Linked DNA regions of Homo sapiens: region 2 is linked to region 1. Evidence: fine-mapped expression QTL. A gene starts in region 1. The other region holds a variant in brackets. All regions are shown on one strand. Distances are from middle to middle.

Evidence for each region.
Region 2: its variant is fine-mapped to the expression of COX18 in whole blood (INTERVAL, PIP above 0.99).

What each region holds. Positions count from the first base shown.
Region 1 is chr4:73,065,831-73,076,640 of GRCh38, reverse strand. COX18 (cytochrome c oxidase assembly factor COX18) reads left to right here and starts at 6,925. Exons shown (of 6, transcript NM_001297732.2): 1 at 6,925-7,324; 2 at 8,512-8,612. The coding sequence starts at 6,992. It overlaps ANKRD17 (ankyrin repeat domain 17), which reads left to right. Exons shown (of 34, transcript NM_032217.5): 34 at 351-3,265. The coding sequence ends at 410. It overlaps LOC112268467 (a long non-coding RNA gene), which reads right to left and starts at 6,695. Exons shown (of 2, transcript XR_002959797.2): 1 at 6,612-6,695; 2 at 4,819-4,928. RefSeq lists enhancers at 6,574-7,090, 6,637-7,156, 7,091-7,606.
Region 2 is chr4:73,648,005-73,664,850 of GRCh38, reverse strand. No RefSeq gene overlaps it. Among named protein-coding and RNA genes, the nearest start is that of RASSF6, 36 kb to the right of the region's middle. RefSeq lists a silencer at 3,019-3,224. The variant C/T (reference allele first, on the strand shown) is at 9,980.

The DNA of each region.
Region 1 (10,810 bases):
GACCATCTAAAGGTTATTTATTAAAGGTACTATAAATAACTCTGAGAATTCACATAAATGGTTGTATATTTTAGTTTAGTGTATGTTTAATATCTTTGATTTATTTTTCTTCCACAACCGTGAATCTATAAATGCTCAGGTAATGATTTTTTTTTTAAAGGTTGTAAATCAGATTCTGTTTGAGGGATAAGAGGTAGGAAAATAATAGAAAAAAGGTTTTTATCATTTTTTTCCATTAGTTCCTAGTATATTGCAAATTGAAGAGTACCTCCTTAGTTTTTTAAAAGTTTTATTTTAATAAAATATATGCTAGATATATATTTTGTAAAATGCATGCTCTATATTCATAGGTGTGGACTGGACCCTGGGCACCTCACATGAACAGTGTGCATATGAACCAGCTTGGCTGATGAGGATCAGCTTGTTAGCCTGCAGATTCCTTTTCATTTGGAGGAAATCACAAGTGGCCGAAAAAAAAAATTATGCTCCCAAATCATTCTACTGATGTGCTTGACTGAAGTGTGTAGGCTTTTTGCAGAAGATCTTACTAACTGACCTATTTTCTGTGAACATTTGTGACTGCCCATTCCCCATCATCATCCGTTTTACCTTAGTTAGCATTTTTCTTATCATTTTTCTTTTTTTCTTTCCCTCTTCCCCTTTGGACATAACTTTCTGTTGAAGCTGTTCTTTGGCTGGTTGGTTTTAGTACTGTAAACTGCTTCTGAGCAAACACGGAAATTTAGCAAAATTATGTAAACTTGATCCTGAAGTTTTAGAATGGCAAATAAATGTACAATTGTTTACATAACAGAAAAGGCTAAGCAGAAAGTAAATTTCAATATGTCAGTATAGAGGCTCTACTTTATGTAGACTTAAATTAATGTGAGATATGTACCTTCATATTCAGAAATCTGGATGTTTCCTTCATACATTAAACTATTAATAAGCATAACTTTTCTACTGGTGTAATTTAAGTATAAAGTAAAATAATGGGCATTATCATTGGATGTTTCCCCACATTGGCTTTTAAAATACCCATCTTGCTTTCTTTTTGGTTTATTTGTAGCAAGGCACATATAGAAGAAGAAATTTCTGGCTTTTCCATGTTGTTTTATTACCTTTTCTCACTTTTAAAACTAATACAGACTTATCTCCTCACTCCTTTTTCTCTCCTTACCTTTACCACTAATACCAGTAAAATTATCTTTCTGATAGTGAAAAGGTTCTGTCAAGATTTTCACTGTAATGGCTGCTACAGAGATGGACCATCTTCATCATCACCAGTGGTTTCTTCTAATTATAAAATGTTTAAACTTTCTGAGAATTTAAAAAGCCACCACTGTTCCCAGTCAGCATATACAAGCTCTTAATATTCTGTTTATTAAATAATTCAATGTACTATTTTATATTGGATGATATTGATTCTTAACATTGGCTTTTCAGTCATCAACAGTCAACATAAAAATTTCAATTTTCAGTAATTTAGTGGAAAATATCTTATTTCTTTTTTCAATTTTAAAGGCTTCCTGCTTTTTTACCCTTGTATATTATCAGTGAAAAGGATCAACAGTTAATTTGAGCCAAGTAATAAAAGAAATTCTGCATTTGTCACGAAGACAATTTATGGTAGACAGATAAATACACAGATTACAGTGTAAAGTCTCCATTTAACCTGTTTATAAAAGATACAAGGCCACACTAAACTACTCAGTGGGATTTATATATTCCATCCACTTGAAACAATAAACAGTAATGTATCCAAGAAGATTATGTGTCCTACCCTGTCTCATGGAAAAATTAATTATATGGTTGAAATGTAAAAGAAAGTAAGCATAAAAATCGAGTAATGTATATATCAATTTGTCTTCTTTTTTTTTAATTAGACATAAAATTTCACACTGGTAAAACATAAAAACTAACTAAAATTCATATAAATCACCTAGAGTTGATGATATTAACATGGTTCCTTGGTTGTCAAGTAAATCAAATGATTTCTTCCATCTGAGTAAAGAGTAAAGCCTGAGTAAAGAGTAAAAAGATGACTTCTCAAACATATCCAGAAATTTGTAAACAGTACACTCATATCTTTTAGTTTAAGAAGTGGTCTTAAAATATATAAATTTGTTTTTCCACCTATGTTTAATATGCCCAAATTTAAAGGGAGAGCTAAAAGACAGCCTACAAATAAATATAGCTATGAAATAAAATTATAGCACTTTACTAAAAAAGGGATGTAATAATGTTATTTAACGAAGTATTTTATATATGACTTGCCACTATTCTATACATAAAATTTTTTTTCTTAATTCTTTCCTGTGTTAACTAGGGTTATTTTCTATTTAAGGTAATCCTGCTGGAGAACAGATGCTATCCAATATTTATTACAACACATGAGTTGTGTTGTTTCACAATACTGAATTTCTTAGGTGAGGTATTTTATTTAAAAAGGAGGGGGAAAACTCCTATATTTTCTTGACTTCAAACCTGTGGGGCCAGGGGATATAGATTGAAATGCTCCGTATTTAGTCTTGGGGATCAGGCTTGTTTAGTACAATACCATGGTTTTAGAAGTCTGTACTAGGAACATTTTTAAAATACATTTTTTATATTTCAGATGTAATGCAGTGCACTTTTATTTGAACAATAAAAAAACCCATAACTTTTTGAGACCATGAAGGTCTTTTATTTTTTAATTTTGAAAATATGTGGTATGTGTATATGCAGACTACATCATTGTTTTAAGAAATGATTTAACTCTTGGACATTACACTTGGGTTAGTTCACACCTTAAATCCCCAAGTAGTTAATATCTCAATTATTGTATAATCAGTTTATACCATCCATTCCCAACAAAATTCCACATTTCATGCCTTTTCAACATACATTTCAACATAATCAACATATTTACAAACACTGACTTCACTGTTTATAAAGAAGAAATTTCCCCTCCTATTTCCCATTACTGAAAAGTCAAGTCATTTTTATTGATACATGAAAATTAATTTTTTTGTAAATGACTACGTATAGTCATTTTTCTCCTTTGGAAAAGGTAAATAGCTTATTAACTAATCCTGTCTTGTTCTTCACAAAAATAATAGTCCATCCGTGTTTTGACTCAAATAACCTAAATACACATTTTGTAAAAATTTTGTACCCTATATTACTTATTTTTAAAACAGTACAGTGTTAGACTAAACAGGAAAACTCAAAGTTATAAAATCTCTTCAGATCCTCTAGTTTATTAAATCTATTTTCATGTTGATGTTTTTCACAACACTTATTCCCACAGATCTGGCATTACAGAACATTTAAAGTGTACCAAAACATTGTTTTAATAACAGATTTTAAAATCAGGATTATTTCAAAATGATTAAAATAGCAAAGAACAACCAAGTCACTGCTTTTAATCACTATAAGCAGAAATTCAGTATTCCATTCTCAGTATATTTTACTTACGTAAATGAATCTATGCAGATATCTTACACTTTTAATGTTTGCTGTCCTTGACACTAAATTCCGAATGTTCCTTAATGTCTTTGGAAATACATATACTATTGATAAATGCTTGCTTAAGTCACAGCATTTGATTAACTCAGGTGACTGGAATTTAAGATGGGAGCATTATCAGTGCTTTAATAAGTCTTAATGTGTTGCACACCTTGATTGCAAAAATATCACTTGAATTTTGGATAAGTGTAAAAGAAAATGTGCTACTGTGGCTTTGACAGAATACCTTTGTAACGTAACAAAGTACAAACCTAATATCTGTGGTGTAGGAGGTTGCATATTATACTTCTGCTTTTAAATGGATTCACACTTCTGAAAAACAAAAGCCAACTTTGCATTTTCAATGCTTGAAAACCAATAATAAGAAAGATGGCAAGGGGATGTCTTTCAATAAAGAGAAAAAAGCCAATTCTAAATTAGGTAGCTTTGGTTTTGAGAAGTAGTGCCTTAAGTAAGAAAGAAAAACTGAAATCTTAATCTGATTCTAAGGGATCACTAACAATTGCTCATGGAAATAGTTTATTTCTTAAAGGTGTTTTGTTGTTGTTTTATATATACCCTAGTAAGCTACAGTCATTTAGTTTGACAAACATTTCAGAAGGCATATTTGGGAAAAGAGAAGACTAAATGATTACATGATAATTACACCCCATATTCAAATTTTCAGCACTTAATTCAGGCTACTACAACAAAAATACTGTTGACTGAGGAGATTAACAGAATGTGTTTCTCACAGTTCTGAGAGCTACAATGTCTAACGTCAACATGCCAGCCTTTATGGTTTCTGTTGAGGGCCTTTTCTCTGGTTTGCAGATGGCTGTTTCCTTTTCAGTTTCTTTGTGTAGGGCAGAAAAAGGTCATCTTGCTTTTGTCTTTTCCAAGAGACAGGATCTCTGTCACCCAGGCTGGAGTGCAGTGGCATGATCATAGCTCACTACAACCTCAAACTCCTAGGTTCATGTGATCCTCCCCACTCAGCTTCCCAAAGCACAGGGATTTACAGGTGTAAACCACCATGCCCAGCCTTGTTTCTTCCTATGAGGGCACTTACCCAATTCAAGAGCTCTACCCTTAAGACGAATTACCTCCAAATACCATCACCTTGGGGTTTCAAAAAAGAATCTGGGGAGGACAAAAATATTCAGTCCATAGCAAGCTCCATTCCTGTGTTTGGCACCATGATGGTTAAGAATTACAGAGACTGCAGAAAGAAAATGTAATACGTAGTCTCTTCTTAAGGAATTTAAAGTTGAGAAATTAACTGACATAACACTAATATCAAAGACTGGAATAAGCTAATTATAAATGTTGAACCTTTAAAAATGTTTTAATACATTGCACAAGTTCATTTGCAAAGAGGATTGACAAATGATTTCAGTTGGTCCACTCAATAGTTGTAGATCATTTTGTACTGTACTCTGAAACAAAAGATACAAAATAATCACAATGTTGTATAAACAGTACCTATACATTAGTAGTAACACTTTTCTTTTGCATTGGGCTTTAAAATTGACAACTACTTCCCCCAACATCCTCTACCAAGTAGATAGCAAGTTCTAGTCATCCCTGTTATATAGATTAAGAAATGTGTTTATACACATATATGAAATTAGCAGAAACTAAATATTCATAAATTTTATTTAGATCAATATTCAAACTTAAGGAAATACTTTTTAAAATAAGAATGTAATATATGAACACAATGTATAGCAAAAAATGTGTTCCAACACTGAAATCTCATTTGTGACCCCGATAGAACTCCACAAAATTAAATCTTAGGAATTGAAGAACAGCTTACAGCTTTTTTTTTTTCTTTTCTTGCTTTTTTTTTTTTTTTTTAAAGAGATGGGAATCTTGTTGCTACCCAGGCTGGAGTGCACTGGCTCGATCATTGCTCGCTGCAGCCTTGGACTCCGGGGGGCTCAAGCAATTCTCCCGCCTTAGCCTCCTGGTAGCTGAGACCACAGATGCAAGCCACCACATCTGGATGATTTTTGTATTTGTTGTAGAGATGAGGTCTTGCCATGTTGCCAAGGCTGATCTCTAACTTCTGCCCTTAAGGTATCCTCCCATCTTGGCCTCCCAAAGTGCTGGGATTACAGGCGTGATCCACTGTGTCTAGCAAAAATAACTTTAAAATTCTGTTCAGATTATGAACAGCTGAACAGTAGTCAGTAGCAACTGATGGCTTTTTTGTTAGCTTAATAAATGGATAAAGAAATAGATTGGTAGGTTTTTCTTTTAGAAAAAGTTTATATATAGTGTGTGTTGTGCTGTGTGTTTAAACACATTTAAAAATTCATGTATAGATTTATCAGTCAGTTTGGAAAGCAGATGAATTCCAGAATCCTGAGAAAGTTATCGTAGGGTACCCTTGGTTAGGTGCACAGTGAAGGGCAAACAATAGCTGGCGTTTGACATTACCCAACATTGTTGGAGGCTTCTTTTCCTAAGTAAGTAAATAAATAAATAAATAAAAATCAAGGTTTACTCCTCACAACATATTTTAGTCTGTAGTCTAGGGGTGACCCTTCGGTGAGGAAACTCCTCCACAACATTCCATTTTGTTGTTTCCAGGAACACAAAAGTTAAAACTATATAGTCCATGTAGATTCAACGTATTCCTTTAAACCAGAAGACAGCCAGTGCTGCTGTTCAGGCTCTTTAAAGCTTATATAGGATACAAGTAAACTCAAGGAATTCACCGTACTGCCAGTGATAGTTTCCCTTAAATAAAGAGATGATACTTTTACTATAAGATTTTTGCTGCTATTTATCATGGAAGACAAAACACCGAAGAAATTCAGTTTGCAGTTGGTGGTCCAAATACTAACTGGAACAGATGGGCCAATTAAATCTACAAGAGACTGAACTATCCCTCGTGCTTAACACTCAGAGTCAGCAAGAAACATGCGTCTCTCTACAAGCAGGTACTTTAGCAACGTGTGACTCTTGAGTATGATAATCTATCGTAATCGCTAACGGAAGCAATCAGGTGCACGTAAAGAGGTTGGGGATCAGCTTCTGGTCACAAAAAACCGAGCAAGGATAATTCCACTACAAATGACTATTAGCTTTAGTGAAAAAGAATGGTAAGTTACACGGTGTAGATGAACTTTACAAGGCGAGAGCTCCCTAAAGAACACCCAGCCTGGCGGAGGGCAGCAGGCTCCACCCATGTCTCTGCAGTTTTGGTCCGGCCTCGGACTAACTACACCCTAGCAGCGGGAAACTTTCGCGTGTGCGCAGTAGGCCTGTCCAGTGCCGCGTGGGAAAGGCGGGACTTTCCTATCTCTTGCGTCACATCCACTGCGACGCAAGACGTCACCGGCTTGACTGGGAAGGTCAATCGCGGCTGCAGGCAGGCGCGCATGCGCTTTATGCCCGCTGTTGCTGGCGCGTGCGCGTATCAGCCTTGGCTGGCCGGTGTATGTCCGCTGGATTGTGAGGCCCGGGATCTGGGCTCCGCCGTGGTGCAGAAATGCTGTGCCGGCTCGGCGGTCGGTGGCTGCGGCCGCTCCCTGCCCTGCAGCTTTGGGCTAGGGACCTGCCGCTTGCGCCGGTTCCTACGAGCGGCGCCAAGCGCCCCACTCTCCCAGTGTGGGCAGTGGCACCAGTCTCTGCAGTACATGCGAACGGCTGGTACGAGGCCCTGGCCGCGTCTTCGCCGGTGCGGGTTGCGGAGGAAGTACTGCTCGGCGTGCACGCCGCCACGGGCCTGCCCTGGTGGGGCAGCATTCTGCTCTCCACCGTGGCCTTACGGGGTGCTGTCACGCTGCCTTTGGCAGCCTACCAGCACTACATCCTGGCCAAGGTGAGGGGCGCCGAGCCGTGCGCGTACCCTGCGCTGCAACCCCTGCGGCGGAGGAAGGCCGACATTCACTCAGGGTTTTCGATCGCACGATGTTGCCTTCTGCAGTGCTTAGTGTTTAATCATCGTGACCATTTCATTGTGACCATTTTAGCGTTAAAAAAAATTGAACTAGCATTAGGTGTGTTAAATAAGATACTTTGTGACACGTGTACCTGTCATTTCTTTTGTCTTACTGGATTTGTGCTCCAAGCACAAGTGGTTACTATACTTGCTCTCGGGGAACGGAGACAAAGAAATCAGTCGCAGAAGAAATTGTGTTGGCGAAACCTACAAAATTTATGTCTTAAAAGTTTTAATAGCCAGTATGTCTGCAGTGTCTTTCGTCCCAAAGTATTCCAGCTGGTCTTTCTTATTAGGAAGAAACTACTAGACTAACAGTTTGCGAACTTGTTTCCTCTCCAGACCCGACTAAGACTGTGTCTGGTTGGTCGCAGTTACTTGACCTTTTAATGCTGAATCCTTTTTTCTGAGGAATCAGGCTAGCAGTACCTTCCTTGCCTACTTCACAGCGTTATCAGAGCAAGTCAGATAATACGGGTTAAAGTGCTTGATTATTCAAATGGGATATTTCAAAAATAGTGGCTTTCTTGTTTTCAGGTTGTGAGCATGGGGAAAAAAAACCGGAAACAAAACAGGAACGGAATCAGCAGCAACATTAAGGCAGTGAGCCATTTTACAGGAAGAATGAGCACAGGGCAGGAATAAATGCTATTTTTACTTTTGATTTGTGGCTATCACAGTGTATTAAAGGTTCTTAACAAACTGCTGTTTTCTCCGCTTACGTTACTAGGAAATGTAGAGATGGAACAGTAAAGCCCAGGGTGCAGTTCTTATCTAATATTTGTAACCCTGTGAAGTAGGTGCTGTTATATATTTTATATGTGAGGGAACATGATTTTAGAGGTTAAGTTACTTGCACAGGATCACATGGATAAGTATGCATTGTGAATTTGGTTGTGACTGAGGACATTTTAAGCAAATTAACATCTTGTGCTTAGAATTAAGATTTCTTGATATGATCAGTAAACTACATTTTTAAATGACTCGAGGGAATAATGTGAAAGATTATGAGTCATTATGAATAAAGATCCTTTATGTGCTCATAACAAAACCTATTTTTTAGCTAGGTGGAAAATTTGCAGCCAGAAATAAAAACTATTGCCAGGCATCTTAACCAAGAAGTTGCAGTTCGTGCAAATCAGTTGGGGTGGTCCAAAAGAGATGCCAGGTAAGCTAATTATATCCACGTAAGACCATACGCACACATACACACACACACACACACACACACACACACACACATACATAAATTGTGATGTTAATTATAAGTTTGAGTATTCTGTAGTTTTGGCAGTAAAGTATTTCTTTTTTTATATATATATATATATATATTTTTTTTTTTTTTTTTTTTTTTTGAGACGGAGTTTTGCTCTTGGTGCCCAGTCTGGAGTGCAATGGTGTGATCTCGGCTCATCACAACCTCTGCCTCCCAGGTTCAAGCGATTCTCCTCCCTCAGCCTCCCAGGTAGCTGGGATTAACAGGTAGGCACCACCATGCCTGGCTAATTTTGTATTTTTAGTAGAGATGGGGTTTCTCCATGTTGGTCAGGCTGGTCTGGAATCCTGACCTCAGGTGATCCACCCTCCTCGGCCTCCCAAAGTGCTGGGATTACAGGCGTGAGCCACCGTGCCCAGCCTACTCTTTTATATTTTCATAAGTTATTAATATGGCATGATAGTTTCATATGCTGGACTGAAAGCAAAGAAATAAATAGATAAAGATAAGAAGAGTATGTTCCTATTCTTTAGGGATTCCAGCCTATTGAAAAAGACAGACCTGTAATCAAATAATGATGTCAGTGAACTAACTGTTATATAAAGATGATGTACAAGGAGCTAGATCATCAAGGAAGGTCAGGGCAGGGTTCACAGGATGAAGGCACTTTGCCATTCTTTTGTGATATTGGTCAACAAATGACACAGGTTATTTACAATCTTGACCTTTTGGAAAAGATACAGCAGGTAATAGCCTACAGGAAAGAGGAGGTAGAAAACAAGTGCCACAGTAGAAACACTTTGATAGCTAAGATGCTGTCTATCCTTTGTGGTTATTCTGTGCAGTTGTCTGCCTGGGTTCTTGGAAAGTCCCAATCTAAGGGTGCTTGATTGCGCCCAAGGATGTCTGCATTCATTCACTGGGAACTTACAAGCCCTCTTGCTTCAATCAACTCCTCAATCAGTTTCCCAAACTCTAATCCTTACTAGACTGCGAAAAATTATTCTCCTTTTTACAGCAATGGAAAAAGGCCTTTGTGGTATCAATCTGTGTTATGTGTATATTATTAACCATATATTTTTATATAGTTGTACATTTCCCAACTATCTTTAATACGAGATTGTGTCCTATATTTAGTGTTAAAAAGATCTGACATTTTAAAAAATCGTGGTGATAGCTTAATGTCTTTATTTGGTAAAAATTAAAAGTTGACCTATAGGTTTGAAATTTTACTTATCAAAGAAGTCGAAAGCTTCAGCCATAGGCCAAAAGAACCAGATTAATAGCTGCTTGCCTGGGTTATCAACGCAGCCTAGATAAGACTTGTGGCACCTTGCTTAAGCAGTACTGGCAGGATGGTTGTGCAGATACAGCCTTACAGATGTTTCTTTCTAGGAGGAAACATCTGAGGGCTTCTGGCATTTTCTTTTCTTTTCTTTTCTTTTTTGTTTTTTTGAACAAGACAGAATCTCCCTGTGTTGTGCAGGCTGATCTCAAACTCCTGGCCTCAAGCAATCCTCCCACTTTGGCCTCCCAAGTAGCTGGAATTACAAGTGCAAGCCACAGTGTTGGCCAGCTTCCTGCATTTTCAATAGTATTGAGTCTTGAAGGGTAAAAGACGGTGTGTCAGATGGACAGCCAGGAAAGTGGGCTTTCCACACAGATGATATAATACAGTACTTCCAAAGGCATGCCTATGCGGAAGTCTGATTTGTTGGATGAACTAAAGTCATTCAGACCAGAATATGCAGGTGTCTAGAGGAGTAACGAGATAAAATTGGAAGAATAGGCAAATGTGAAATTATGGAGGACCTAGAATGTCTTTGTGTACTGTCTTATTATACACTATAATTTGACTAAATTCAGAAAAACTATTGAATGCCTCCTCTGTACAAAATATATGATACAGGAGATTTAAAGATGAATAAAATAGAACACTGTCCCCTAAACTAAGAATACTTTAGTTTTTGTTTTTTAACTCCTATTCTCTTGGACCTGAAGGAAGACTGTATTCTAAAAAGTAAAATTTCAGGAAAAAACAGTAGTAACTAATATGGTTAACAGAGAAACAGATTAAAAATATCTTTGTGAGATAGTTGATTGAAAAATGGAGACTATTTTGACAGGCCAAGAGCATACACAGTATAAAA
Region 2 (16,846 bases), 590 kb before region 1:
GCCTGTCTCAGCAGAAAAAGTAATTCCTGGGAAGAGAAGTATCTCTTATGAAAGGCTTTTCCCCAAAACTGGATGGTTGTGTGGGAGAGGAGTTGGAGGGTGCAGAGGAGGCACAGAAAGGAAGAAATAAGCATAATAGGATGAGTGAGAACCCCAAACAGAGCCCCACTCAAGGCTGCTGTCCAGGAACTGGCAGCATCAGCATTGCCTAATGTTGGGAATGCAGGATCTCAGGCCCCACTTCAGACCTCCCAGGACCAGAATGTGCAAGTCCACAAGACCCCAAGGTGATTCCAGCACACATTACAGCGTGAGAAGCAATGGTTTAAAACAATGGTTCTCCACCTTGGCATCACTTTGAATTTTCTGCAGAACTTTAAATAAGCACTGATACTTGGGTCCAATCCCAGAACTTCTGATTTAATTTTTCAGGAGTATAGTTGGGGCACTGAGGATTTTTAAGCTTTCTTAAGTGATTACAATGTGCAGCCAAGATTGAGAACTACAGATTTAGTGGACTGATAATGGCAGTTTCTGTTTATTTGCTCTCCTCAGTGGCACTAGGATGTATGTAAATTTCTGTTTTAGACTTGAAGCCATGAGACCCTGTAAGAGGAGAATTTTTTATGATCGGGTGTAGGACACTCGACAACAGGTCATGGAAATCTGAGTGGTTTGCATTATATAACAGATCTTTCCTTACAAAATGTACATGTACAATAAATTTTTATAAATAAGAATTATTTTGCACTCTTAATATTTCCCATACACTGTACTAGACAACCATGCCCATTATTTCTAATCATCCCATAAGCTCTACAAAGATAGTGTTATTATCTCTCTTTCACAGATTTGGAAACTGAGGCTCAGAGATGTCAAGGGATTTCCAAGGTGACACATCTGATAAACAGTGCTGTCAGGACTTGAGTACAGGTCTTCTTGTCTCCAAAGCTGAAGTTCTTTACTCTGCCCTAACTGCTTCCCTTAAAAACACAAATCACATTTCAAAACCACCAAGTTTGTCATTTTAGTAAATACACAAGATGAATTATTTTGCAAGGCAGAGTTACTTGATGCAATCTCTCTTAATTTGCCTACTTTACACATTACAAAGTTTATGTAGATTTTCCCAAATGTAATCCAAGCTTTGATTTTAGCCCTCACATGGTGAGTTTTAAAAACAAATAACTAACTAGTTATTCCTCCTCCTTTCTTCCTGTTTTCCCCACCTTAACTCCAAGTCTTTTATAGAGTGAAGTTCAATTAAAATAAAATAAAATAGAGTATTGCCATGTAAGTATATTTAGCCTTCCAATTACCTGAAGGAAGTAATAAAGGAATAATTAAAACATTATGGTTCTGTGTGGGTTTAGTGGGCTTGGATGGTAATTTTCCTGACAGGAGCACACAAACTGATGCCCAGTAAGATGCTGCTGTACCCTGTTCTCAAACCACTTAAGAATGATATTCACGTTGCAAAGGAAACTCCCTATTGGGAACCCCTGGTGGGGCTTCCTTTTGAACATTTATACCACGATGTACCAGAACACACTGCTTTTATAGTATCAGACCACCCTCCAGTCTCTGGGTCAAAAGTCTGCTTAAAATGAATCCAGTAGCTGATAAAAATGACCTGAGGATGGAAAGAGAAGCCCCCAAATCACACTGGGCACCACACAGATGCCCAAGCAGATAAAAGTGATGCCTTAGAGAGACCATCAAGTGGCTAGTTCACATGCAAATGTTGCTCCAAGTACTTACAAAGTGAGGAGCTCTATACTAAGTGCTTTATATGCATTTTTCCATTGAATCTTCATAGAAACTCTACAAGAGTCTGTTAATTTTGTTTTACAAATAAAAATGCTGAGAAATGGAGAAGTTAAGTGACTTTCACAAAACCATGTTGCTAGTAAGTGATGAATTAGGAATTCAATGGCCACGATCTAAGTCCAGAGCCCACGTTTTTAGCCCAATACTGCCACTTATAGGTAGGATGTAATATCATTTTCTATAGAGATATTAAAATGGCAGATGCTTGACAGGTCTAACCAGCACCTACTCCCCCTGTTCCTCTCCAAACGGACCCCTATTTTCCTTTAAGGAAATAACTGTAGTGACCACCTGGTAATTACGCAGTAACCATGATTTCTTAGTGGACTGACCCACTTCCAGCTCAGGGGAAGGTCTTCAGCATATTCTTACACCCCTTGCAATGATGGTCAATTTACCTTGGTTCAATCTGAGTAAAGATCTGGAATTATCATTTGGTGATTGTGAGAAGTGATGCTTTCTACTTGGGAAATGAATAAGGAAGTGTGCAGCCTTAGCTGTTACGGCAGCCATCTTTGTGACCATGAGGTTACAGCCAGGCTGAGGATGAAGCCAGCATGAAGACAGAGGCCAAAATCTTGACCAAAAGAAGTCTGATGCTGGCTCTTCCTTTGGTTTACAGTTTTATGAACCAACAAATCTACATTATTGCTTAGTTCCCAAGGAGTTGGGTTCTCTGCAACTGAAAAGTCTTATCTGATACATGGATACCAATACTGTATGCTTTGTTGTCTTGAAATAATTCTAAGTGAGGAATTTACTTTCAGCATGCTATGGTCTTAATAGGAGCTCCATTGTGGACATCTTCCTGAAGATAAAAATATAGAATAGTCTCTAGACAAGCTCACTGCTCAGATAATTGCTCTACTGCTAATCTAGACTCTATAATTTGAAATTCATCATAATAGGTTAATATGAATAAAGGCATTCACAATGAGTCAATTATATTGCTATTCATCAACTTGTGTAAGTGCCTGAAGCACAATTTATGTCAAACTCAAGGAACACAAGCTTCATATCCTGAAAATTTGGGGAAAACGTTATTAGTCATAGGTACCTTTTAAACTAAAAACAGGAAATTTTGTTGTGAAATAAAACATGACCAAACTAATTGTTTCTCATTTTATTCAAAATCGTTTCCCCCATGAAGCTTTCCTCAGGAATTGAAAGAATGATATATACACTTCATGACTCAAGTCTTTCCACTGACCTCACTTACCAAGAGCTGCAGAATGTGGCTCCCCACATTGGCTATGATGCTCACCACAGCCCTTCTTATCATAACAGACCTCTTTCCTATCCACATTCCATGTGCACCTCAGCATGTTTCCTGTGGGTGTCCATTGGTCTTTCTGTTTACTCCCAGATAGTTGGATCAGCTGTACTCAAGATGGGAGGAAACTTCAAAATGTCAAAATGCCTATATAAGCAAATGGCAAGAAGTGTACCAGCCAAAGGCAAACTGGATTGTCATCTCCTTGAAAGTAGTTCTATACTCAAATTGTCTAAAGTGACAAGTATACAAATATATAATGAATATGCATGTATATGTGCTTATACATATATATTAAAATTTATTTGGGAATGAGGAAGATTGTTGAGCATTTGAAAAAATTTCATTGGACTATTAACTTGTCTGAAGAAAAGTATAATGGAAATTGAGGAAATCAGGAAAGGAAATATTGTACAAGTTAGGAAAGTTAACCTGGAAGGCTAGCTTATGATAATTGTGGGTTTTGCCATTGAAACTACTGTTAAAAAACACAACTATTTTTGCATCAACCTAATACATTATCCCATAATTATCCCTTGGAAGTCACCTGAGGGAGAATTGTTTTGCTCTCCAATAAATCTAACCAAGTTAATCTGAAATTACTAAAAGGTAAATTTTTAAAGTTCTCAATGTCCTCCTCCAGGAACACACATGGTGCGGGGCAGGGGGTGGGGTGTCTTACTAAAAGGGCATTAGAAAGAACTTACAGAATGTGGCCTTGTGTCACGTGATTTGGAGGAGGGTTTGAGAAGCATGGCTTTGCTCTAGATCGGATGTTGTTAGGAAGTGATATAAGGTCATGACTGGATCTCTCAATAATTCTTATCTAGGAAGAGGGAAGACTAGAGTCAAGCTAAAACTGTCAGCAATAAACAAGCAATAGCCACTCTAATTAGCCAGGATTGGGAGATATTGGGCCATGTTTGTGATTTAAACAGATTTCATTCTTTGCCTGTGTTCATGCATGGTTACGGAGAGGTCTTGTTTTTGTCTTGATTCACCATGGTCATAGGGTGGCATTGTCTGATGTCGGTATTCTGTGAAATCATTTATTTGAAGAGGAGATCGCTAAGACATAGCTGGAGTGCCAGGCCAGCTCCTGGATGTCAGAGGCATCTTTTTCTTTCCCAAAGCCATACAAATTTTTCAATGTCTAATCATATAAAGCAAATCTTTCCACTAAACAACAACAACAACAAAGTCCAAAAAGGCTGAAAAAGATATGTGTAGATTTATTGTATGAGTAGGAAATTGTTTTTTCATGTTACCAGTAACTTTCATTAGAGAAAGTTGATAAACTGTCTCATCTTCCTCATTCAAATTTGGATTAAATTTTTAGACTTTGTGAACACAAGTTTTCAAAATTAGCTAAACAATTCTTCATGCCAAGAAAAACTGAGCAGAATTTTTGAGAGTCTACAAATACTTGAGCTAGAAAAGTCAACAAGGTGTGGACTATACAGAAGCATATATGTTTATGTATGCCACAGCAAACCTGTGAGACTCTTTTGAAAAGCAATTAAGCCAGGCATGGTGACTCACGCCTGTAATCCCAGCACTTTGGGAGGCCGAAGCGGGAGGATCACCTCAGGTCAGGAGTCCAAGAGCAGCCTGGCCAATGTGGTGAAACCCCGTCTCTACTAAAAATACCAAAAAAGAGAAAAAAAAAAAAAAGAAAGAAAAAAAATTAGCCAGGCGTGGTGGCAGGCACCTGTAGTGCCAGCTACTTGGGAGGCTGAGGCAGGAAGAATTGTTTGAACCCGGCAAGCAGAGGTTGCAGTGAACTGAGATTGCACCACTGCACTCCAGCCTGGGCAAAAGAGCGAGACTCTATTTCAAAAAACAATAAATAAATAAATAAAATAAAATGAAAAGCAATTAAGCAATGGAGGTCAGGAGGTATAAAAATATACATGTGCCTTGAGTTAGTAACACTGCTCTTAGGACTTTATCCTGTAAATATTCTTTCAAGAGAGAAAAATTGCATGCTTAAGATATCTCCATCATATTATTCATAGTAATGAAAATTTAATAGCATTCTAATTTCAAACAATAGCAGAAACTTTAAATAAATGTGCATCTACTTCTCCTAGACTGTCTATTAAGTCGTAGCTTAAATGATCATTCCTGCTGCTTTAATGGCACAGCAGAGTTGTTCTGCCTTGAATCAAATGGGTCTTTGTCCCTTCACTTTTATCAGTTACTGGGTGTGGGCAGGCCCCAGAAGGGCATGACCTTGGGTGAGGTGACTCTCTAGCTGGTGTGATTGCTGAAGTGCTCCAGTGGCAATGAAAGAGAATCTGGGTGGCACAGCTGCATGTTCACTTCCGTCCACCCCTAGCACTGCTGGGATCCACTTTTTTTCAATATATGGGGAATAGCTCTTCCAGAATTCTATGGCCTCTCTTCCTGGGGCAAACTTAGGAAAGACAATTAAGTGGGAAGAACTATAGTCCTTGCCTCTGCAACTGGCTGTGGAATTTCAATTGATTGTCTCCCTCCTTCATTGTTCACTGTAGATCTCCCTTCTTTTCAGCTGCCACCGCTGTTTGTCTTAGAGGCTTTCCTGGTGACGTGACCCAGAAACTCGTTCTCAATGAGCCTACATCCCTGATCGCAGTGCCTTTCTCAAGCCAGGATTGCTACACTTGTCTATTTACCATCAAAATTGGGCAAGAGAGCACCAAGAGGCACTAAAGTAGATCTTCTGAGTTCAGTGCATGGGTATGGGGTGCCACCTAACATCACGCTTAATCAGAGACACACACAGGAGACAAAGGAATTGGCTCATGGCCGTGAGATTCACTGATTGTATCAAAAACTGAATCACCCAGAGGTCAGCAGCCCAATAGAGCATTAGAGTGGCCTGCCAAAGGCACAACTGAAACACCAGCCTAGAGGTGATATCTTACCACAAGAATGGGAGCCATCATCTAGGTAGTATATGTACCTTGAACCGAAGACCTTATATGGTGCAATGACCTTAACCAGATGACTGCATGAGTTTGAGAATAAAGAGGTGAAAGCAGAAGTGGTCCTGCTTAACATCCATCCCAATGATGCACTTGGGGAATGTATGCTTTCTTTCCTGGCAATTCTGGAAGCTTCAAGGTTAGAAATTTTGTTCCCTATCAAGAACACATTAAATAGGCCACAACTAAGCATCCTATTGAATTATAAGATATGGCCTCTGAAAGCACTTCAGTCTTTTTCTGTGCAGGCACCAGCAGGCAAGAAAAGGAGTCACCATCATGGCTTGGTAATGCTGATCACGGATTTGACCCCGACCATCAGGAGGACGTAGAAGGAGATAGGCCTACTGATACATATGATAGGGGCAGGAAGGAATATGCTGGCACTGGTATGTCAGGAACTTAAATCTTTGAAGGGTTTCTCTTCTACCCTCCGGAGCACATTTGTCTTAAAGCCTCCAATGTGCCAGCCAATTCTTGCTCATCTGACCTGATTACCATGATGTCATTGACACAGTGGATCAGTGTGATATTCTGGAAGATGTCTAGACAGTCCAATTGCTTTAGACTATATTATTACAAAAGATGGGGCAGCCTCAGGGAAAAACTCTGAATATATATGATTATCCATTCTATGTGAACGGGAACTCTTTTTTGATAGGAATAGAAAAGAACACTTGCCAAATCAGTAGCTCCCCACCACATATCTGAGGCCAGGTTCATCTGCTCGGTCTGGCACAGTGGCTGCAGTTAGGGGTGTTGCTACCACCTGGTTGAGTTTGTGGAGACAATAGTCCACCAGTATCATCTGTTTTCTTCAGAAGCCACACTGCTAAATGAAATATGACAGGAACAACCCCCACCATGTCTTCCAGATACTTAAGAGTGGCAACAATTTTCAACTGCCCTCCCTCCTCTAATATACTACCCTGCTTTTTACTTACCATTTTGACCAGGAATAGGTGGGTGGAGGTGGATCATTTAAGTGCTTGTATTTGACATTCTCATCTGTGACAGCTCTTACCCTACCCACCAAGGACATAACATAAGATTTGTACCAACTATCATGTATATCAAGCCCAGCTACATATTTGGAAGTAGGAATGACTCCCACACAGGTGGGTTAATTAATGGGTTCCAGTATTAAAAACAGGCTTAGGTCTGGAAACTGGGAAAAGGACCAAGACATTTTATTGGCACAACCGCACTCAATCTCTTGACCATCCAACCTTGATTTCTTCTGATGGTACAAGTTGAGTACTGTCCTTGTTGGTGGCCCCGCTATTCACCTCTAGGATATACCATGTTCTATTAACCGTCACGATCATTCTCTGCAGGTCAGGGTCCTACACCGACCACTCTGAGCTTGCCACTCATTATATCGATCACATCCACTTGTTCTTGATGGCTAAGTACAGCCAGATGGCCTTATGCATCAGCTCCAGCCAGCCTGGGAGATATACCACTGAATCTACTGATGTTGATGCCAATCTCACCAACATGTTCCCAGTGGCCTTCACAAGTGATCTACCCACCAGGACGTTCTATGCGACATAATCGTCTTGTGGGGTTTTCAGTCTTACACAGTATGTCTACTCCAGCATACCCACTTCCCTGACTCCTTTTTGTAAAAATAAACTTCACTGAGGTAGAATTCACATATAATCAAATCACCAAATTTACAAGAACAATTTGGTGAGTTTCGAAAAATGTTTACAGTTGTATAACCAACACCACAATAAAAATATAGAACATATTATTCACCTCAAAACATGCCTGTAATCCCAGTAGTTCGGGAGGCCGAGGCAGGCGGATCATGAGGTCAGGAGATTGAGACCATCCTGGCTAACACGGTGAAACCCCGTCTCTAATGAAAATACAAAAAAAAAAAAAAAAATTAGCCGGGCGTTGTGTCCGGCGCCAGTAGTCCCAGCTACTCGGGAGGCTGAGGCAGGAGAATGGCCTGAACCCGGGAGGCGGAGTTTGTAGTGAGCTGAGATCGTGCCACTGCACTCCAGCCTGGGTGATAGAGTGAGACCCCGTCTCAAACAAACAAACAAACAAACAAAAAACATTCTCTTGTGTTCCTATTAGTTAGACATCTTTCACCACCCTCCGCCTCTGACAGCCATTCTTCCTGCTTTCTATTACTACAGTTTTGCCTTTTCTAGAATTTCTTATAATTGGAATTATATAACACATTGGTTTTTTTGTATGTGACTTCTTTCACTCAGAATAACGTTTTAAGATTAATCTATGTTGTGAGAATTAGTAGTCTACTTTCTTATTGCTGAAAAGTATTCCACTCTATGGATATACAACAATTTCTTTGGTTATTCAATATTTTTTAGACATTAGAGTTGTTTCCAATTGGGGGCTATTATGAGTAAAGGGGCTATTATGAGTAAAGCTGCTATGACCATTTTCATCCTAGTCTTTGTGTGAACTTAGTGGGAGCACACTAATATTGCATTAAGATTTTATTTGCTTTTATCTGATAACAAGTGATGTTGAGCATCTTTTTATGTCTTTACTTGACATTTGCATGCCTTCTTTTGTAAAATATTTGCTCAATTCTTTTGCCCAGTTTTTAAATGGGTTGTTTGTTTACTAATGTTGAGTTATAAGAATTTTGTATATATTCTAGTTCTTTATCACATATATGTTTGGTAATTATTTTTCCCAGTCTTTACTTACTATTCTCTTAAAGCATCTTTCCTAATGTTTACAGTGTTTTTAATGCTTAAGAAATCTAGTTATTCAGTTTTTAATTTTATGATTTGTGGTTCTTGTATCCTATTTATTAAATCCTTGCCTAACTCAAGGTTTTGTGTTTTCTTCTAGAAATGTTTGCAGTTTTAGTTTCTCTGTGATCTTTTTCTAGTTAATTTTGTATACAATACAGGATAGTGATCCAAGTTTATTTTTGTATATAGAATACCCAATTGTTTCAACACCAATGCTTAAAATACTTCTTTTCTCCATGGTCAAGATCAATTGATCATAAATATATTAGTCTATTTTTGGACTCTATTGTTTTTTATTATCTCTCTTTTTGCCAATACCATAGTTGTGATTATATTGTAGTTTTATAAGTAAGTCTTAAAATCAAATAATGTGTCTTCCATCTTTGTTCCTGTTTTTCAAAGATTTGTTTGATATACTTAGCATTTTCATATAAATTTCAGAATCATTTTCTAAAATATTTTCTAAAAAGAAAAGCAAACACAGTAGAATCTGAAATTCTCATTGTTCAAAGACGCCTGGACACTCAAGGGACTCAAGGCAGGGACGTTCAAGGCAGGGACTCCATTATTTCTGAGTCAAAAAGATCATAGGCGGGGTGACCATATGTGCCAGCTTGTTCCAGACAGTTCCTATTGACACCTATTATTTGGGCATAATTATTAATAGCATCTCCTTTCACTTTCAACAGTGGCCCTGTTTGGATAATAAATTATATGGAACCCTGAGCCTTGGATGCCTTTTCTAAGACTGGAAGCTCCCATGTCTATGACTGCTAGTTGTACTAATACCTCCTTGTTATCCTTCCAAGAGGCTGCCAGGGGATGAGGCACTGCTACCCTCAGGATCCACTGACACTGTTTTATTCACATTCTGAGGAAATGTCTCCTCTTACCTCTTCTTATGCTTCAAAGCTCTGCTCTGTATTTTCCCCCTTCTTTCCTCCCTCAGTACAACTTTTTGGATACCTTATGTTTTAAGAAAGCAAAAAGCCAAATGAAGGTTGCCTCTAGCAACTTATTTTCCACCTCTCCTCAGACAAGGGAACATAAGAGCTGGGAATCCAAAAAGGAAAAACATCTGGGGAAACAGAAATCAGTATCTCACTAAAGTATCCTTCTGTGTTTGTATCTTCAGAGTTTGTTACCAGTGAATAGCA[C/T]GGAAAGGAGATGCTCTATGAATACTGGAAGGAAGAGAGAGAAAAGGATGACAGTAGGGAGCTCACATTAAAGAGAAATAACACATTATTTAATGAGTTCCCCAGCTGATGCCACAACAAAACAGCCTCCTCTGAACTTTTATGCTCTTTTAAATCCTCAATCTATCCCACCACTCTGCCGACTAACAGGTTCAAATCATGCCCTGCTGCCTACCTGCAGTATTACCTTGAACCTGTTATTGACACTTACTCAGTCTGAGTATCCTAAAATCGTGATGGCGATACCTACCTCATTTGTTGATTATAAGGCTTAAATGAAAACAGCGTAATAAAGTGCTTAATACAGTACCTGACCTCAATAAAGCCCTTATTACCCTCAGCAAGTGTGTGAGAAAGGAAAAGGAGCCCACATGCAGAAAAAATGGCTTAAGGTGTGTTAGCATGCTTGTCCCTGTATTTCATTAGAGGCTGAAGCATACTAGGTATTCAATAAATTATTAGTACGCATGCATATTTCTTAAAATAAGGATTTCTTATTATTAGCATTATCCTTGCTGTCTCCAAATAGCAAAGGAGCAGCTGCTCTTCAACCATGGAGAGGAGATGACTGTATATTAGAGGATACAGTGTTTTATTTCTGTTATATTCTATTGTCTATTCTATTTGTATTTGTTTTATATTAATCTTCATAGGGTTTCTAATACCCTTGTATTGTCACTCCAGCCTCCTGTTCTGCAGGCTAAAAAATCAAGCTGATTACAGTTCTTCTTTTATTTGTCACAAATCAAAAGAATGTAGTGAAAACAGTTAATACTATGAAAAGCACAATTAGTTACTTTATCACTAGGTCAGGTGGCAGCTCAGGAAAATCTGTTAATCTAGAATTTCTGTTGACATATAACATTGGAGTCAGCTGGGCCTCAGCTCGTTCCCATTTGAACAGGCTGTTTGTTGACAGTTATTCCGTGCCAGGTGCAGCTGTAGCCACTACAAACACGCAAAAAAAAAAAAAAAAAAAAAGTTTACGTCACTAGAGGGCGCTGCAGCCCAAGACCTGAAATGAGGACTGCGTTAACCCCACTGCACTGAAGTTGCAGTGCGGTTTGTACTACATTACATTGTGTTTTGCTGTATTGTGCTGTAATGTATTGAATTGCATCAAATTAAATTACATCATTTGATATATATTTGGATTTATATGGTTTTTAAATGTGTTGCCTTAGAGAAAGCACAATTTGCTATTATATTTTTTGATGCCTATAGTTATCCTTTTCTTAAATAACAGTGGCTGAAATAGATGCACAGCAAAACATAACTCACCTCAAGAATTTACCAGAGTCATTCGCAAAGAGACAGCAAGTTGTAGTTGAAAGAGAATTGGTCATTTGGTCGATCTTGCCTCTTCGGAGCCTAAATATTGCTTGTGCACAGTGCAAGAACATATTTGAAAGACAGACATGATTTATATTTATTGTATGCCATTCTCTGGGCAAACTTGGGTCAAGTATGTAATCAAATATATCTCAAAGTGGATCCTCTGATTACTATGCTTAAATCATCTGGGTGTTTCTTTAAAATGCTGTTTCTTAACCTACCATAGACCTAAGAGATCAGGACTCTTGTGAGGCAATGGTGGAAGTGGTGGGGAATCTGCATTTTTAGTAAGCATTCCATGTGCACACTGAACTATTGGCTTAACCCATTCCCTGTCTTAGTTCCCTCCCTCTCTTCATCTGAGGAATTAATGAATTAGCTCAATCAATTATTTGGTACAGGTGCTTCTATGGAGTAATCACCACTACCAAGGGAGAGGAAATGTCAGTTCTCCTAGTTGCAGAAGCAAAGCTCAGCTGGGAAGGATGAGACTTCAGCTTACTGCCATGCATTCTTGTGTAGCCCTCACTCTCAGCCATGGCAGGGTCCCTGAATGTGAAGGCGAGCAGGCCAGCGCACAGGCACAGAGTTCAGCAGTGAAGGTGCAGAAGTGGTTTGTGTCAAGCCATAGAAAAGAGAAGCAGCAAACAGTGGTCAACACCCTATTCCAAAGTCTGGTTCCAGAACCAGCAACATCAGGATGCTCTGGTATATTTCCCCTTCCTCTCCTGGAAGCATGAGTGGAGTTTTCTCCAACATTTACTGTAAGAACCTGGTGGAGCTCCTAGAGTTAAAACTCACAGAAAGTGAGAACCTCCCCATGACTGTCCCCTACCCCAGATTTTTAACTCCCAGGCTTGTCCATGCTGAGCCTCCAGCAACTCATCAATGCAGTTCAGGTTTCCATACCCAGCACAGGTGCCCAAGGTGGTTTTCTACTAGTAGATTTCTGCTTAGGTAAGCTGTGATTCCCTGTGTCTGCCTATCTGTCTCTCAAATTTTGGGAGCAGCACTTTACTCTGTGACTTCACTTCTCTAAGAAGAGTTGTTGATTGTTCAGTTTGTTCAGATTTTTACCTGTTGTTAGGACAAAGTAACAAATTCTAAGCTCTTTACATGCCAGACCAGAAGCCAGACATCTCAATTTTATTTCTTAGATGCATAACAGATTTTTGACTGAAGAGAAGGAGTGCTAGAGGCAGAGGAGGGACCTTTCTTCTCCAGGAAGAACTCTCTGAGGCCTTGGACTTGAGCAGTATGATTTGGGCCTGGTAGCAATGTGCACAAGGGAAGCGGGAACCCTCTCCTCACTGATGTATGGACCACTTGGGCCTTTCCAGGGTTCACAGTTTTGAAAGCCTCAGGATAAAACACCTTTGTCTCAGACTTGGATATGAGCTTTTCCATAAAGAAACCCAACAGCAGAGGAATTGGTATGGCCTAAAATGTTGCAGATGGGGGGCAGGGAGAAGAATATGGGAGGACTGGGTTGAAATCTCCCAGGAGAATCTAGAAAACCTTAGAAGGGATTTTTCTGGGGACTGACTTCTCGTGCTATGTAGTTAAGGAACAAATGTCAGTGAAATATGGGGGTTACCATTAACCCCAGGTAGAGCCCACATTTCACTCATACATGAGTGTCAACATTTCCTTTTATAGGGGTTTCTAGGGAAATACAAATTATTAGAGCAAAGAAAGTTGGGAACATGACAAATGTCAGTGGTGGCCAAGAAAATGTGTTGAATTTGGCAATGTAGAGAGCCACAAATAGGACTCAAGTAGTAACATGTATGAAAATGAGAAATGGTTGATATGTGTGCTGGAACTGCAGCTTCAACAAAACTGAGCACAAGCTCCTGCAGCCTCAAGTTCTCCAACTTCATAAAAGAATGGCAAAAAAACAGATCCTCACAGTGACAGATTGACAGGAAACAAGGTGACCCTCTGGCTGTAAGGTTGCAATGGAAATGTGAGCTGTTTCGGATAACAGCTGATGTGGAGTTTGGAGAAGAGGTGCTAATGTGTCCGTTAATCCCTTCTTGTGTACCCAAAGGCAAAATTACTCAGAAACCTGAAGACTGGAAAAAAACTTGAGTTCTTACTCAGGAGAGCTCAGCCTTCTGCAAGCAAAGGTGGTCACGGGACCTTAGTCTGGACACAGGAAGCACAAGGAATACACTGGCTTCTCAACCCCCCTCCCTGCTATCTTCTGTAATTTCTCCTTAGGGCTTCATTTTGCTGGGGTGGGTGCCAGGGCCACGGGACAACTGGTAAAGTTGATGTGGATTGATGTTTACACATATCAGGAAAGGGAAGAAGAACTATCCCCAAAATAATCCTCTCCCACTCCTTTCCACCTCATGCACTAACTGTTATGAAACAACACTAGATCCTAGAAAGATGCTGTAGAAATTAAAACATGTTCTTCCTTTTGTCTGTTGTTTTAAATAACTATGGTATTTGAAAACTTACTAAATTCAAAGTCTTTTCAATTATACGACACCCTGAAAACATATCCTTCCTGACAAGATCATAAAAATCTTGTGTGCTTATATATATATATATATATATATATATATATATATATATATATACACATTATTTCTATTTATATATGTATATGGACATGTGGGTGTGCAAGTGTATATGTTGGAAGGAGGGAGGGCAAAACTGGCAGCCACTTCAGGCATCATAACACCAGCTAACACCTGCACACTTGCACATACTTACTCTGTGCCAGGAGCTGTTCTAAAGGCTTTACACATTTACTGTGTTTACTCATTTAATCCTCACAACAATTCTATGAAGTAGGTATTACTATATTCATCATTATCCCCATTCATCTGATTGGACAACTAAAATACAGAGAAGTCAAGAATGAAGAAGGGATTTGGTCTGAGGCTGTGAGTGCCGCAGTTCCTGGGCTACAGGCCCCTCTCCTTGGAGTCCATTTGAATGTCACCAGACAGGCAAGACTACCTGACTATGCAATTGAATTCAATTCCACTGATAATGCCAGAAAAAAATTCCTATATTAGCTTCCTTGTTCAGAACGTTGCTTGCAGAAACATGTTGGGAGGTTTAAACGTTTGCCTGAAGGATAAAAAATGACAGATTGGAGGAAAGGAATGTCACATTTCAAAACATGTCTGGGGAGAAAAAAGACTTTGAAAACTAAGTTTATTTGATTTCTTTCCTCCTTCCTTTTAACCACACCTTCCCAACATACCTTTTTCCACTGACAGGCCTCTACATAGTCCAAGACCGAAAGAAAACGTTCCATTTTCTCCACAAACTACAGGTCTGCTTGGCATTGCAGGGCTGTAGGGACTGAGATATATTTGTCTGCCAGTGGTCTGATTTGATTTCTTTCCTCCTTCCTTTTAACCACGCCTTCCCAACATACCTTTTTCCACCAACAGGCCTCTACATAGTTCAAGACCGAAAGAAAACACTCCATTTTGCCCACAAACTACAGGTCTGCTGGGCATTGCAGGGTTGTGGGACTGAGACACAGTTGTCTGTGAGTGGTCTGCCTTAAAGGGTGAGTACATCCAAAGTGTTAAAGAGAAGGTAGATCTGACATTATGTGTTCAAAGAACAGTCTTCACCTCTTCAGCAATTATAAAATGATCCTTGTAACCACCATTTGATGTGTAGCCACTAATGGTTGGAGATTATCATACGCTGTCACTAATCCATTAAATAACCTTGTGTGCTATTGTCCCTAGTCTACACACAAGAAAGGCATCTGTATTCTCACTGTCTTCACCTGCTCTTTCTCAGGCTTTTAATGTTCCTTGCTCCTTCCTGACACAAATCTTTCGCATATGCTGTTTCTTCTGACTATAGCACTCCCCACACTCCCATTAATAAAACCTAGAAATTATTTCAATGTGGAATTATACATTCATTTGTGTCATTATTAAATAATGCCTATGTCCCACTTGATACCTAAGGTCCATAAAAGCAGGTATTATAGGTGTCTTTTGCTCACTATCATGTCATTAGAAAGTAGTGCAGGCACAGATAGGAACTCAATAAGATAGGTCACATTAATTAACTTTCCCAAATTGGCTGAGCTGAGGGTCAAATTTTATTCAGCCAAGATCCAAAGCTGAGCTCTCTATTGAGCTGTACTGCCTCCAACATATTCATGGCACTTTAGGAAAAGAAATCAACCTTAAATTAATAACCTATAAAGAAATGCCAAGAAAATGGAGACTAGCAGATGACATGACCACCATAGTTGCAAAACGCAGGCCTTGGGCTGAGTGATATTGCAAGGTCTTTCAACTTTCGAGCTTGTAAAGATGCTCCATCTTATGTACCTGTCTTCTGTCATAGCTATCTCTCCATATCTATCTAGAAATCTGTAGTTTTCGCTTTCACCACTCTTCCTTTCCTATTCTTTCCTCATCCCACACTTAATTTCAATTGCCCTAAGTTTATGTTTGTCAGATAGATAGACAGATAGATAAATATGTGTGTATATGCTTTTGAAAATAATTAAAATGGATATTTGAATCACAATAGAAAAACAAAATCTTCAAACTAATTTTTTTCTAAAATATTTTTCTTTCTATTGTTCACATCTACTTTCATTTTTCTTTTAGTTCCATCTCTCAGTTATAATTCATAACTTCTTTGCTGGAGTCATAAATTTTGAAAGCATAAGTTTCTTGCTTTTGAGATCGTTGCCCTCTCTATCTCACACCTCAGTAAACGGCAGTAACAATTGCCATTTATTATGCACCTATTATGTAAGGCAGGTGGTGTTTCAATTCCATCTCTCTGTGTAATATGACTCCTACCTGAGGTCTGTATCAAAGTCTTCATTTTACAGGCGAGGAAATGAGGGCTTCAAGAGGTTGAGTCTGCCTAAGGTAATGCATTCAGTATGGAACAGGGCCAGAATTTAAATCACTCCTGATCCTAGTGTCCTTGTTCCTTTTGCCACACCACAAAATATCTAGAACAGTTAAACTCAATTTAAAAGAAATAAGAAAACAAATGATCTCTAATGCCAATGACTACTTGAACCTATGAATCAGTAAGGGCAGATGTCAAGCTACACTTACCTCTCCATTGTCTCTCTCAATCTAACATTTGCCACCTCTCACTTCTCACCACTTGCTCCTACAGAAAGAAAACTAAGAGTACCTGACTAAATAGTCACCTGAAAACTGTCTAAAGAACTTATTCTTTATTATCCCCCAGAAGAAAGATAAATAAATACCATTTACTGAGTTTCTACTTTTGCCAAGTACTTTGTAAAGGTTAACTCATTTACAATAATGCATATAATAGTATTCACATTTTGTAAGTGAGAGAGACTTGGACAGGTTAAAAAATTAAATCTCAAGTTTTAGTTATGAGTCCTTTTGTTTCCCTTTATAAACTCCTTCTGAACAGTTTCATCCACATGCATGTTTAAGTCACCAGATAAGTGCTGGTTACTCCTAAATATAAAGCTCAAGGTCTTACCTTTCT